Regions from separate parts of the Homo sapiens genome. Here region 2 is linked to region 1. Evidence: fine-mapped expression QTL. Tissue or cell type: whole blood. Region 1 holds a variant in brackets; the other region holds the start of a gene. All regions are shown on one strand. Distances are between the middles of the regions.

Evidence for each region. PIP is the estimated chance that this variant, and not a neighbour inherited with it, causes the effect.
Region 2: it holds the start of DOK1, and the variant in region 1 is fine-mapped to the expression of DOK1 in whole blood (TOPMed, PIP above 0.99).

The regions. Positions count from the first base shown.
Region 1 is chr2:74,693,319-74,698,751 of GRCh38, reverse strand. It overlaps a transcript of SEMA4F not described here. Among named protein-coding and RNA genes, the nearest start is that of SEMA4F, 42 kb to the right of the region's middle. The variant G/T (reference allele first, on the strand shown) is at 2,235.
Region 2 is chr2:74,551,455-74,556,887 of GRCh38, reverse strand. DOK1 (docking protein 1) reads right to left here and starts at 2,168. Exons shown (of 5, transcript NM_001381.5): 1 at 2,074-2,168; 2 at 1,435-1,734; 3 at 1,220-1,313; 4 at 810-994; 5 at 1-580. The coding sequence starts at 2,133. It overlaps LOXL3 (lysyl oxidase like 3), which reads left to right and starts at 2,946. Exons shown (of 14, transcript NM_032603.5): 1 at 2,946-3,012; 2 at 4,242-4,566. The coding sequence starts at 4,254. RefSeq lists enhancers at 1,867-1,926, 1,551-2,068, 3,552-3,846 and silencers at 2,077-2,826, 3,552-3,846, 3,832-4,126.

The DNA.
Region 1 (5,433 bases):
ACTGATAGTCAAAGGAAAACTCACCATGGCATGACTTTCTTGGAGGTATTTGTACTTAGTTATATTTGTAAGGAACCTCTCAGTGGATATGGATTTGGCATGACTCGTATTGCAGTAGGGCCTTTGTGCTAAGGTTCTGTTTCAACAAACCTAACGAGATATCCTTTGAGGCAGGGCCCCCTGAATCTGGGTGGAGTAAAATGGCCTGACAACCAGGCTGGGAAGGACTTTTGTGACTGAGTTTACAGATACCTCTGCCTTCTAAGCAGAGGACAGAAGACAAGAATTGCTGTCTGGAAAAGGATAGCTCCCACTTACAGCCAGCTCCATGAACATCTATAAGACAATGTACCCCAACTCTATGACAGCTCCATCCCATCCCATCCCATAATATGTATCATACTTATATTTTCTTGCTTATGTGGCTCCTACAACCTCTGCTTCCTTTCTCCCCATTTAAAACCTTCTTATGAACAGATTTCTCTGACTTGCATCTAGCTTTTTCATACCTGGATTTTCCAGCTTTGTCTAGTCCCTTTGAATTCATGATTTAACTGGATTATTTCCCATAGCATCACTCTTAGACCTAGGACCTATGTTTTAGAGGGTTCTTCTTTGGGGAAATCTATGGTCCCTAAGGGATGTGCCCATCTGGAGTCCAAACTTCCTTCTGGGCCATCTTGCAGGTACCTGGGACCCTGGAATTTCCTATCCAAACAGTCCTGATCCTGATTCCAGGGCCTGGACAAGCATCTTCTCTGGGTCTGGAGAGGGGACCTTGCTGCCTGTGAGTGAACTCCCAGGCCTGAGGGGTGGCTGAGGCCAGTGCACAGGGCTTTTTGAGATGCAAGATGGAGCCAGGGCCAGGAAGAGAAGGGGGAAGACTGGGGGCTGGGATCCTCTGTTTGTACTGCTGCCCTGGCCCTGCTAATCCTAGAGGTTCCAGGTACGAAGATGAATGAGGTCCAGCCCCTGGCCCAAAGGAACATCAAGAACACAAGTAAACTAGGGATCAAAGTTGAACTAAAGATTGTTTCTTTCTTCTATCTAAAGCCTGGAGCCTGGAGAGGCCTTCAATGTGCTGCTCTCTACTCCCTCTGAATGATCTGCACCTCCCCAGCAGGAGGCAACCCCACCTCAAAGTGTTGCCCTCTCAAAATGCTCTCCAGTTCATCAAGACCCCAATCTTACAACTGGGGCTCATCTCAGAAGAGAAGAGGGTAGTAAGAGGGTGCTATCTCTTCCCTCTGTGCCTCAGCTTCTTCATCTGTCAAGCGGAAGTCATATCTGCCCCCTCACTTCTCCAGGATTACTTTGAGGATAAAATTAGAATTGATCACCTGATTGCCCAACATTCAAGGCTATTCTAAGAAACAGCCTCTCAAAGAGAAGTGCAAGAAAGAGCTAATCTGGGGTGACAGACACTGATACTCTGGACTATACATTGAGCTCTAGCCATGCCAAGTTCTTGAGTCAATGCTGGTTTTCCATGTCACCCAGCATGCCTCAGGACTAATGCCCCCAAGTATGTATTCAAGAGATGAAAGAATTTAATCTTAGTCCAAGAAGACTATAACCTGGGAAGACAGATCTCCAGCAAGGGCTAACTCTAGCTGTGGGTAGACAGGCACACTTCTACTCTGTTCATGGAAATGCAAAATGGTACAGGCCTTTGGGAAAGTATTTTGGTAATATTCGTCAAAAGTACACATGCAATTACTCTTTGACCTTGCAAATCCATTTCTGGGAATCCACAGATATACATTCTTATGAGATGACATATGTACAAAGTTAGTTATGACGCCACAGGTTGTAAGAGCAAAAGATTAGAAATAACCCCAGGGTCCATAAATAGAGATTAGTTAAATATACTATGATTCAGCCTTACAACACAATAATTTAAAACAGAACAAGGACACTTTCTATGCACTTATGTGGAAGGATCTCCTTGATATATTGTTTATGTAAAAAATAATGGAAATAAGAATGCATTTTAATATTTTAATTTTTTCTTTCTTTTCTAAAAATATTTTTTATTTCCATAGGTTTTTGGGGAACAGGTGGTATTTGGTTACATGAGTAAGTTCTTTAGTGGTGATTTGTGAGATTTTGGTGCACCCATCACCTGAGCAGTGTACACTGAACCCAACTGGTAGTTTTTTTATCCCTCACCCCCTTCCCACATTTTTATATTTGATTGTATTTTCACAAAGAAACACTAGAAGGGTACAGAA[G/T]AAATTAATAAGAGAGGCAGGGCCGGGCGCGGTGGCTCATGCCTGTAATCCCAGCACTTTGGGAGGCCGAGGTGGGTGGATCACCTGAGGTCAGGAGTTTGAGACCAGCCTGGCCAACATGATGAAACCCCGTCTCTACTAAAAGTGCAAAAAAATTAGCTGGGCATGGTGGCAGGCACCTGTAGTCCCAGCTACTTGGGAGACTGAGGCATGAGGATCGCTTGAACCTGGGCGGTGGAGGTTGCAGTAAGCCAAGATCATACCACTGCACTCCAGCCTGGGCGAAAGAGTGAGACTCCGTCTCAATTAAAAAAAAAAAAAAAAAAAAAAAAGAGGCAGGAGAGATGTTTTTCAGTATACAAACTTTTATATATATATTTTTAATCATGAATATTTTAACTTTGCAAAAAAGAAATTAATAAAGATTTTTTCAAAATCACTTCAGAATGCCTTCTAAATGGGCAAAGAGTGCTGAACTAGGTGGCAGAGGTTCAGATTTGATTTTAGGTGGGGCCCTGGCTTCCCTGAATTTGCTCAGCTGTGAGACTAGGGTGGCCCTGTATGCTCTCAGTCCCTTACAGCCTTGCTCTTCTATAAATAAGGTATTTTCCTGGATCGCACCCTGTGTTGTATTACCACTCCCTTCTGTGCCCTTTCGTTGTACAGACAGTATCAAGTTTAATGAGTATGTTTGACACCAACTTCGGGAGAATTCCCAGCATCTCACAATTCATATCTGGTTACTTCCTGCTCTTGGATTATATTTGTCAATCGTCCATGCCATGTACTTCTCTCTTAGGCTTTATTCAGAGGCTTTTAAATTTGCACTTTAACTTGGATTAGTCCTTTTAGAAAGCAATTTGGTCATATAAAAGGTAACTCATTTACTCTTTTGAAAGAGTTTAATACAGCGTCCTGTTTCTTGGGGAATTACCCTCTATATGACAAAGTCCAGTTGTTTTATTCATTGATTTGGATTTACTTCTGTTGAGGGTTGTAGGGATGAGGGAGTAGGGATAACAGAAATCCATGGGTAGAGGATATGGAAAACAAGGTGAGCCAACTGCTCTGCTACATTTGGAGAGAAAAAGGCAAGGCTGAGGACGACAAAAGTCCAGACAGGGGAGTGCTCTGTGCAGAAAAGAAGCACTGTTGTGCTCTGAGGTTGTGCAAAGGAGATCATTGTGTGAGAAGCATGGAGACAGAGCCTGAAGGTTCAAGGAGGATAGAGGAGCTCTACGAGTATAAGACACCAGCTCTGCAATTGAGTCTGCTCCCAGCTACACGGGAGGCAACTCGACTCACATCTGGCTGAGTGTCTGATGCTGTTGTGGACAGTGTTGCTATAACCTGCTGAGACACGCAGAGATCCCAGCACAACAATTTTCCTCTTTTTATTCCTTAAAAACCATTTTAGTTCAAAAACAAAATTTCAAATAATAAAAAAAATTCTCCTCCCAGCTATCACAGTCCTCAGTATCTACTAAAAGGAGTTGAAAACATATCCACAAAAACACCTGCACATGTATGTTTATAACAGCTTCATTCATAATTGCCAAAACCTGGAAGCAACCAAGATGTCCTTTAGGAGGCGAGTGGATAAATAAACTGCAGCACATCCAGACAATAGAATATTATTCAGCACTAAAAAGAAACAGGCTACATTAACCAGTCAATGTACATATTGCTTGGCAAGACTAAGCTTCAGCTTGTCCAGCATAAGTCTTGACTTACACTTCTGTATTCCCTACAGCAACTAGCCTCATGCTTTCCACCTGAAAGATGTTCCACAAGTGTTTGTTAATTTTACCTGATTGGCATCAAAATGAAGATAGCAACACAGAGCTGTTATTTAAAAGAATAAGCCAGAAGCTGAATGGTATTGTTTTTAACTATTAGGACATGTCACCACGCATCAGTCTTTCCCAACTCATTGTTAGCTGGGAATGACTGGGAATAGGAACGCTGGGGGAAAAATCCTGGATGGGTGTGGCTAATAAAGAGGATATGGCTGTGGAGCAGATAGACTTGGCTTCAAACTCTGCATTTACTACTTCCTAGCTGGGGACCTTGAGCAAACTGAGCTCTGGGTTCCTCATTTTGTAAAAAGAGTTCAAAAGGGCTCTTGGTGTGGTTGAAATGAGAGTTCGAAATAATATACTCAGAGCACCTGCCAAGGTGTCTGGCCCCAAGCTGCTCAATGTCTAACAATGATTTCATCACCTTCCTTGCTTCCATCATGTGCTGGAAAATCTAAGTGCATTAAAAAAAATGAGAGACTGAAGGATGTGAATCGCTATGAGAAAGCATGAATATCAAGAAGAAAGCATAAAAGGTATGAAAGAAGCACGCACACACACATGCACACACACGTGCAGCAATTCCAGGCTCAACTGTCTTGTCTGCAGATGTTTTATCAAACATAGGAATATATTATAGCCAAGTTGTCTAAACTCTGTTTACCTGAGTCTATCAGAGTTTATCTGTTAGTAATCTATCTCTAAAAGGCTGAAAGCTTCCTGGTTCATTCTAACACAGCAGTCCCGTTTCTGAGAATTTACTTTAAAGTATATCCACACACCTACAAAATAATGGATTTATGGGGTTGCTTACTGCAGCAGAAGACTGGAAACACCTCAAATATCTATCACTACTGGGAACTGGTTGAATAAACAAACTATGACACAACCACACAAAGGAACACTGTAGCAATAAAAAAAAAATGAGGAAACACCCTATGAACTGATAGAGGACAATTTCCTTGATTTACAGTTAAAAAGAGCAGGTATAGCACAGGTTATAAAGCATGCTACCTTTTCTGAAATATTTTCAAGGCAACAACTTCACCTTCCCGATCTGCAAAACCACTAACACAGGGATGATCTTAGGAACCAACGTGGCTTCAGCACTAGGACATTCACAGGCTAAAGGAGAAAAACTATACCATCATCTTACTGGCTGCTTATGAAGATATTTGACATAATTCAACATCCATCCTATCCTCTTAAAAGAAAAATATAAAACCCTGTTAGTGTTAGAGGTAATGCAAAGACTCCCTCTGTATTACAAACCTATTAGAAACCAAGAGGAAGTGTGAAAAACAATGGTGAAATACTAAAGGCACTGCTATAAAATCAGGTTCAAGTCAAGAATGAGTTCTGTCTGGGCCAGTTCTGGAAGTTCCAGCCAACATGCTGAA
Region 2 (5,433 bases), 140 kb after region 1:
CAGTGGCAGGGTTGTAGGGGAGCTCATAGCCCTCCTCCTTCACCCGAGCTTGGCACCACCATGCATCCTTGGGCTCCCGAGGCAGATCATAAAGGCCCTGGGGAGGGACTGGGGCCAGGCCCTCAGGTTCATCATAGATGGGATCCTCTTTGGGGTCTGTCAGCTTGGCCTTCAGCAACTGCTGCTGCGCATGCTCATACAAGTCCCAATAGAGAGGTTTCTTCCGTTGTACTCCCTCTCCTGCCTGAGCAGACGTGCTGTCCAAGGGGTCTGAGTATAGGGAGTCCTGGGAAGGGCATGGAGCAATGCGCAGGGAGTCTAAGGGCTCAGCATACAGGGCTGGGGGACTGTCGAGGAGCTCTTGGGGGCCAGGTGGGGAAGGCAACTTCCCCTCTGCCACCTCCCCTTCATGGGAGTCAGCTCTGAGAACATCGTGCCCCTGTCCGGCCTTTCCCTGGGCCTTCTGCCGGTGGATGGCAGTCTCAACTGCCTGGAAGATGTCATTTCCCTGTGCCGTCTGGAAGGTGAAGGTTCCAGGGCCTGAGGGGCAGCGGCGGCCGGCCTCGAAAGAGAACATGACCTAAGGAGGGTAGAGGGGGAAACACATTACCAGGAGCCATCAGAGGAAGTGAGTCACACGCCTGCACTAGTTAGGGTATCTACAAAGAAGAGACCACCTGCGAACAGACGCGGGGTCACCGGGTAGGCAAGAAAGGGGGATCCAAAGGTCAGAGCTTCCCACTTTCTGTCCTGCCCCACCCCTCCCACAGCTGCCCAACCCAGGAAGCCCTCCCGGACAGCCCCTGCACCTTGTCCCGGCCATAGCGACGCAACAGAGTGTAGGGCCAGGACAGGAGTGGCTCCAGTATCTGACTCTGGGCCCCCACGGTCAGGAGAGTCAGCCTTTCAGCCTCCACCCTCAGCACGTAGGAGCCATGCAGGCCACAGCGCTCGGCGGCCTCAGTCCTCTGCACCGTTACCCAGAATTGGGATCCTGGAAGGCATACACGATTAGACAGCTGCGGGGGAGGGACGGGGGCAGCAGTGGGGACCCAGAGGACTCATGAGCATAGTGTCCAAGCACTCACTCGGAAGCCAGATCTCAGGGCCTTCCTACTTCTTACTTCCCCATGGGCCCCTGGGTATCCACCCACTTCCCAAAGGCCCTCGGCCCTCCTCCTCTTCACTCCATCCCTGCCCGGGCTTCTGAGGCGTCTACCTTCCCAGGTAGGGCTGTACAAGGAGTTCTCCAGCATCTCCAGGGCAGAAAGCTTAGGTGGGTTATCGGTAGGCGCCAGAGTCCAGCTGCCTTTCTGTAGTAGAGAGCATCGAGAAACCCGTAATTTCCTCAGCGGGGAGCGGGGGTCGGTCTGAGGCAGCCCCATTTCTCTGCCTCTGTAACTGCCCCCACCCCGCATCGCCGCAGCTCCTCACCGGAAAGGCGTTTCGGCACAGCGTCTGCACCCAGGCTGCACTGGACGGCGCGTCGGCCGCCAGCAGGTGCGAGCGCTGAGCAGTGTCCAGGCGGAAGGCAGTGGCGCCGGGCTCAGGGGGGGTCTCCACGGTGACGGGGGCCACACTCACACACTCAGCCAGACGGATCACTTTGCAGTCCAGGCGGCGCGAGCTCCCTCGGCCACCCCCAGAGCTCGACCCCTTATGGTCAAAGAACTCGAGCCGCGCTACGCCGTGGGGACTGGCCGGGTAGAGCACGGCCCAGGTCTTCCTCCACCTCTAGGGAGAGAGAGAGAGTGCTCGAGAGGGAGTGGCGTGCGCAGGCGGCCCGGGTCCCGACGGGGAAGGAGGTTGCGGCGCAAGTCGATTTGGGATCTGGGGCTTCCAAACGGGGTTGGGGGCGAAGTTTCCCAAGGACGATGCCACTCCGTCTCCCCAGGACCAGAACCCCTAGACTACAGACGCTTCCCGGGAGTGTGCAAAGCAACTTCACGGGAAAGTCACAGGCTCTCCAACTCCCGGCGCCGCTCTCCAGCCCGCTGCCCACCTCTCCCTGTTTCTGGGCTCTCTCACCCACTACTAGCCCGGATAAGGTTCGGCATCCATGCGCCAGACTACCTTGGTCCCAAAGCGCTGACTCTGCAAAAAAAGCGGCCCTTCCATCACTGCTCCGTCCATGGCCCCCGGCGGTTCCTTCCGCGCTTCCTGGCCCTGCGGCGGGAGGCGGGGCGGGAGGCGGGGCCGGGTTCCCTGGAGGAGTTTCCGCCCCTCCCCGGCCCCCGCCGGCAGCCGCTGGGGGGGTCGCGGTGGGGTGAGGGAGAGGAGCGAGAAGGAATGGTGGAGACCCCCGGATTAGCCGGGAGCTGCAGCACCCCAGGCCCCTACCCGCCGTCGTGGGGGCGCGCCAGTGGCTCCACCGAAAGTCCTCGGTTTTGGCGCGAGGGCCCTGGCCTCTGGGCGTGGTGGCTGCGCGTGACGTCATATGCCCAAGGTGACGTCAGAGTGAAAGCCATGACATCACCCCGAAAGCGCCCCGGGCACCGGAGAGACCCACACGGGCCTCCGGGGCTTTATTTACCCTGGCCGGGCCCGCCCCCAGCCCCGCCCGAGCCGGGCTGTTTAGACTCCGCTGGCCCGGGACTCGGAGGGAGGGCTGGGGTTGAACCGCTTCCCGCCACCACCGGGGCCGCCCCGCCGCCCGGCCGCCGCTTGCATGTCAGCTCCCTGACCGCAGAGGCCTGGCCTCCATGCCGCGGGAAGAGAAAGCTTCATTGAACGAGCCGGGAGGGCCAGGGAGGGGGAGGGGGCGCGGCAGTGGCCAGCTCCACGGGGAGGGAGGACCCAGAGGAGGAGAGGAGGGAACTGGCCGGGAGGAATGGAAGGAGAAGGCGGAATGTGGGAGGGCTCAGGGGGATGTGGGAGGGACGAACGGAGAAGGGGGAGAGAGGGGGGTCCAGTCTCCCCTGGCCGAGCATTTTTTTTTTTTTTTGGAAGTCCTAGGACTGATCTCCAGGACCAGCACTCTTCTCCCAGCCCTTAGGGTCCTGCTCGGCCAAGGTAGGGGGAGTCACGCTAACCGCAGAGGGAATGAGTAGGGGATGGAGAGGATGTGGAGGGACCAGGGAAAACGGGTGGTGTGGGATGGAGTCGAGGGGAAGCCACCCAACTGAGAGTTTGATTCTTGTCAAAGGGCAAGTGAGACAGAGTACACGGAGGAGGCACATACCGGAGGCGGGGGCTACGGGTGTTCGAACAGGGCCGCCAGGAGCGCCCTAAGGGAGGGGGCTCCTCCGGGAGGCGCTGCCCCTGGGTCCCCAACCCAGAACAAAGCTGCCTTGTTGGATTGATTGTTTGGGTTGGGGGAAGCATGTTGACGGGGGCTTGCTGTAGAGGGGCTGTTCTCAGCCCTAGGCAGAGAAGGCCTTGGCTGAGGAGCCATAGCGCCTGGCCTCCCGTTGCCCGGTGACAGGGATGGTGGTGTTGGCAGGAGGCTGGGACAACCCTACCCCATCCCCCGCCCAGCCTTGAGGCCTGGCCCTCCTGGGCCTCTTGACCCTGCAGGGCATCTGAGAGCCTGCGTGTTGGGGAGGGCGTGCAGCAGGTTCTCCAGGCGAGCTTTGGTGCCAGCCTTCCCTGCCTGGGAATCTGCTGGGTTAGGACTCTGGGCTCCCATTCAGGGGATCTGTGATCCCAGGGCCGCCTAGGGCCCCTTACGTGCCTCTCTGCACAATCAGTACAGCTGTCTGTCCTCCCTCTGAGTAAATGGGGTCATCTGGATCCCTCCCACGTCCGCCCCTTGGCTCTTGTCAATCCCTCTCCTTCTCACCCGCGGTGTGCTTGGTTCCCCTATACTGAGTGCTTAGTTCTTTGCCTATCACTTTCTATCCGTTGTCTCTCTCCTCTGTGTCTTTCTGGTTTTCTCTCTCTCATTCCCACAGTCTCCCTTCCTCTCACATCCTGTCTGTCTGGGTCTTCCTCTCTCTCTACGTGTCTCTTGCTCAGTCTCTATCTCTTTTTATTGACCCTTCTCTGACTCTCGATCTCTCATAGTTGTCTCTTATCTCTGGGTCTCTCAGGCTGTGCCTCTATGACCTGTGCCTCAGCCCTTATTTAATGTGTTTCTCTCCCTGTCTCTTGGTCCCTGGGGCTCTTTCTCTCCTGTTGTCTCTCGCTGTCTCTGTCTTACTCAGTGTCTGTTTTTCTTTCGTGACTTCTCCCTCTCTTTCTGACTCTGGGCCCCACTCAATCTGTTTCTCTCACGCACACTTTGTCTCTGGGGCACCCAGGCCTTCCCTGCCATGCGACCTGTCAGTGTCTGGCAGTGGAGCCCCTGGGGGCTGCTGCTGTGCCTGCTGTGCAGTTCGTGCTTGGGGTCTCCGTCCCCTTCCACGGGCCCTGAGAAGAAGGCCGGGAGCCAGGGGCTTCGGTTCCGGCTGGCTGGCTTCCCCAGGAAGCCCTACGAGGGCCGCGTGGAGATACAGCGAGCTGGTGAATGGGGCACCATCTGCGATGATGACTTCACGCTGCAGGCTGCCCACATCCTCTGCCGGGAGCTGGGCTTCACAGAGGCCACAGGCTGGACCCACAGTGCCAAATATGGCCCTGGAACAGGTGAGCAATGATCCAGGCATATCCTAGATATTTCCTATGTGTGGCCAAAGTGCAGGGAAAGGGAACACGAGGATGGCACAGCCATAGGGACACACGACACCAAGAACAGCCAGCATTGAGTAAATCCATGGATGACAAACCAAGCAACATAGTTACTTCCCAGAGCTGTGTGACCTTAGGCTAGTCAGTGCTTTCTCTGAGCCTCAGATGCCCTGTATGCAAAATGACTAGATGATGTCTAAGTTCTTTTCTGCTGCAAAAGTATGATCCTACAAAGCCATCCACAAAACAGCCCAGATACAGGTGAGCCCTGTACAAATAAAGTACAGTTAGTCTCATGGGACGCTAAGAGCAGGTAAATGATATCTGGATGTCCCAAAGTCACAAGGGGTCACAGACACTGCAGCTAACAAAATCAGGTTATGGGCCAGAGCTAAAACTAACAAGGTGGTACTGTCTAAGGACAAGTATAAAATCTAGGACAAGTATGAGTGTGGGTGGTGGAGGCTTAAGAGCAGTTCCCTAGGTGAGGCCTAGGACTGTGCCCATGGTATGAACCCACAGTGGGAATGATGGACAGAAGCAGGTGCAACCTGCAGCTGATTCCCCAGTTCCCACTGGCTAGACCACCTGTGGAATTAAGTGTCATTTGTAGATGCTGTGTTTTAAGAGGGACAGTAGAAAATGGAAATACTTTCAGAGGAGAGCTGCCTAGATGTGAAAGATTCAGAAGCCAAGTTTCAAGGAGGAATTGCTGAAGAATCAGGGGATTGATATGGAAAGTAAAAACCTTGCATAGCAATGGCGTAATGGTTGTTTTTAAATATGGGAAGGACAGTCGTGTGGCTGAAGGATTTTTCTGGTTGG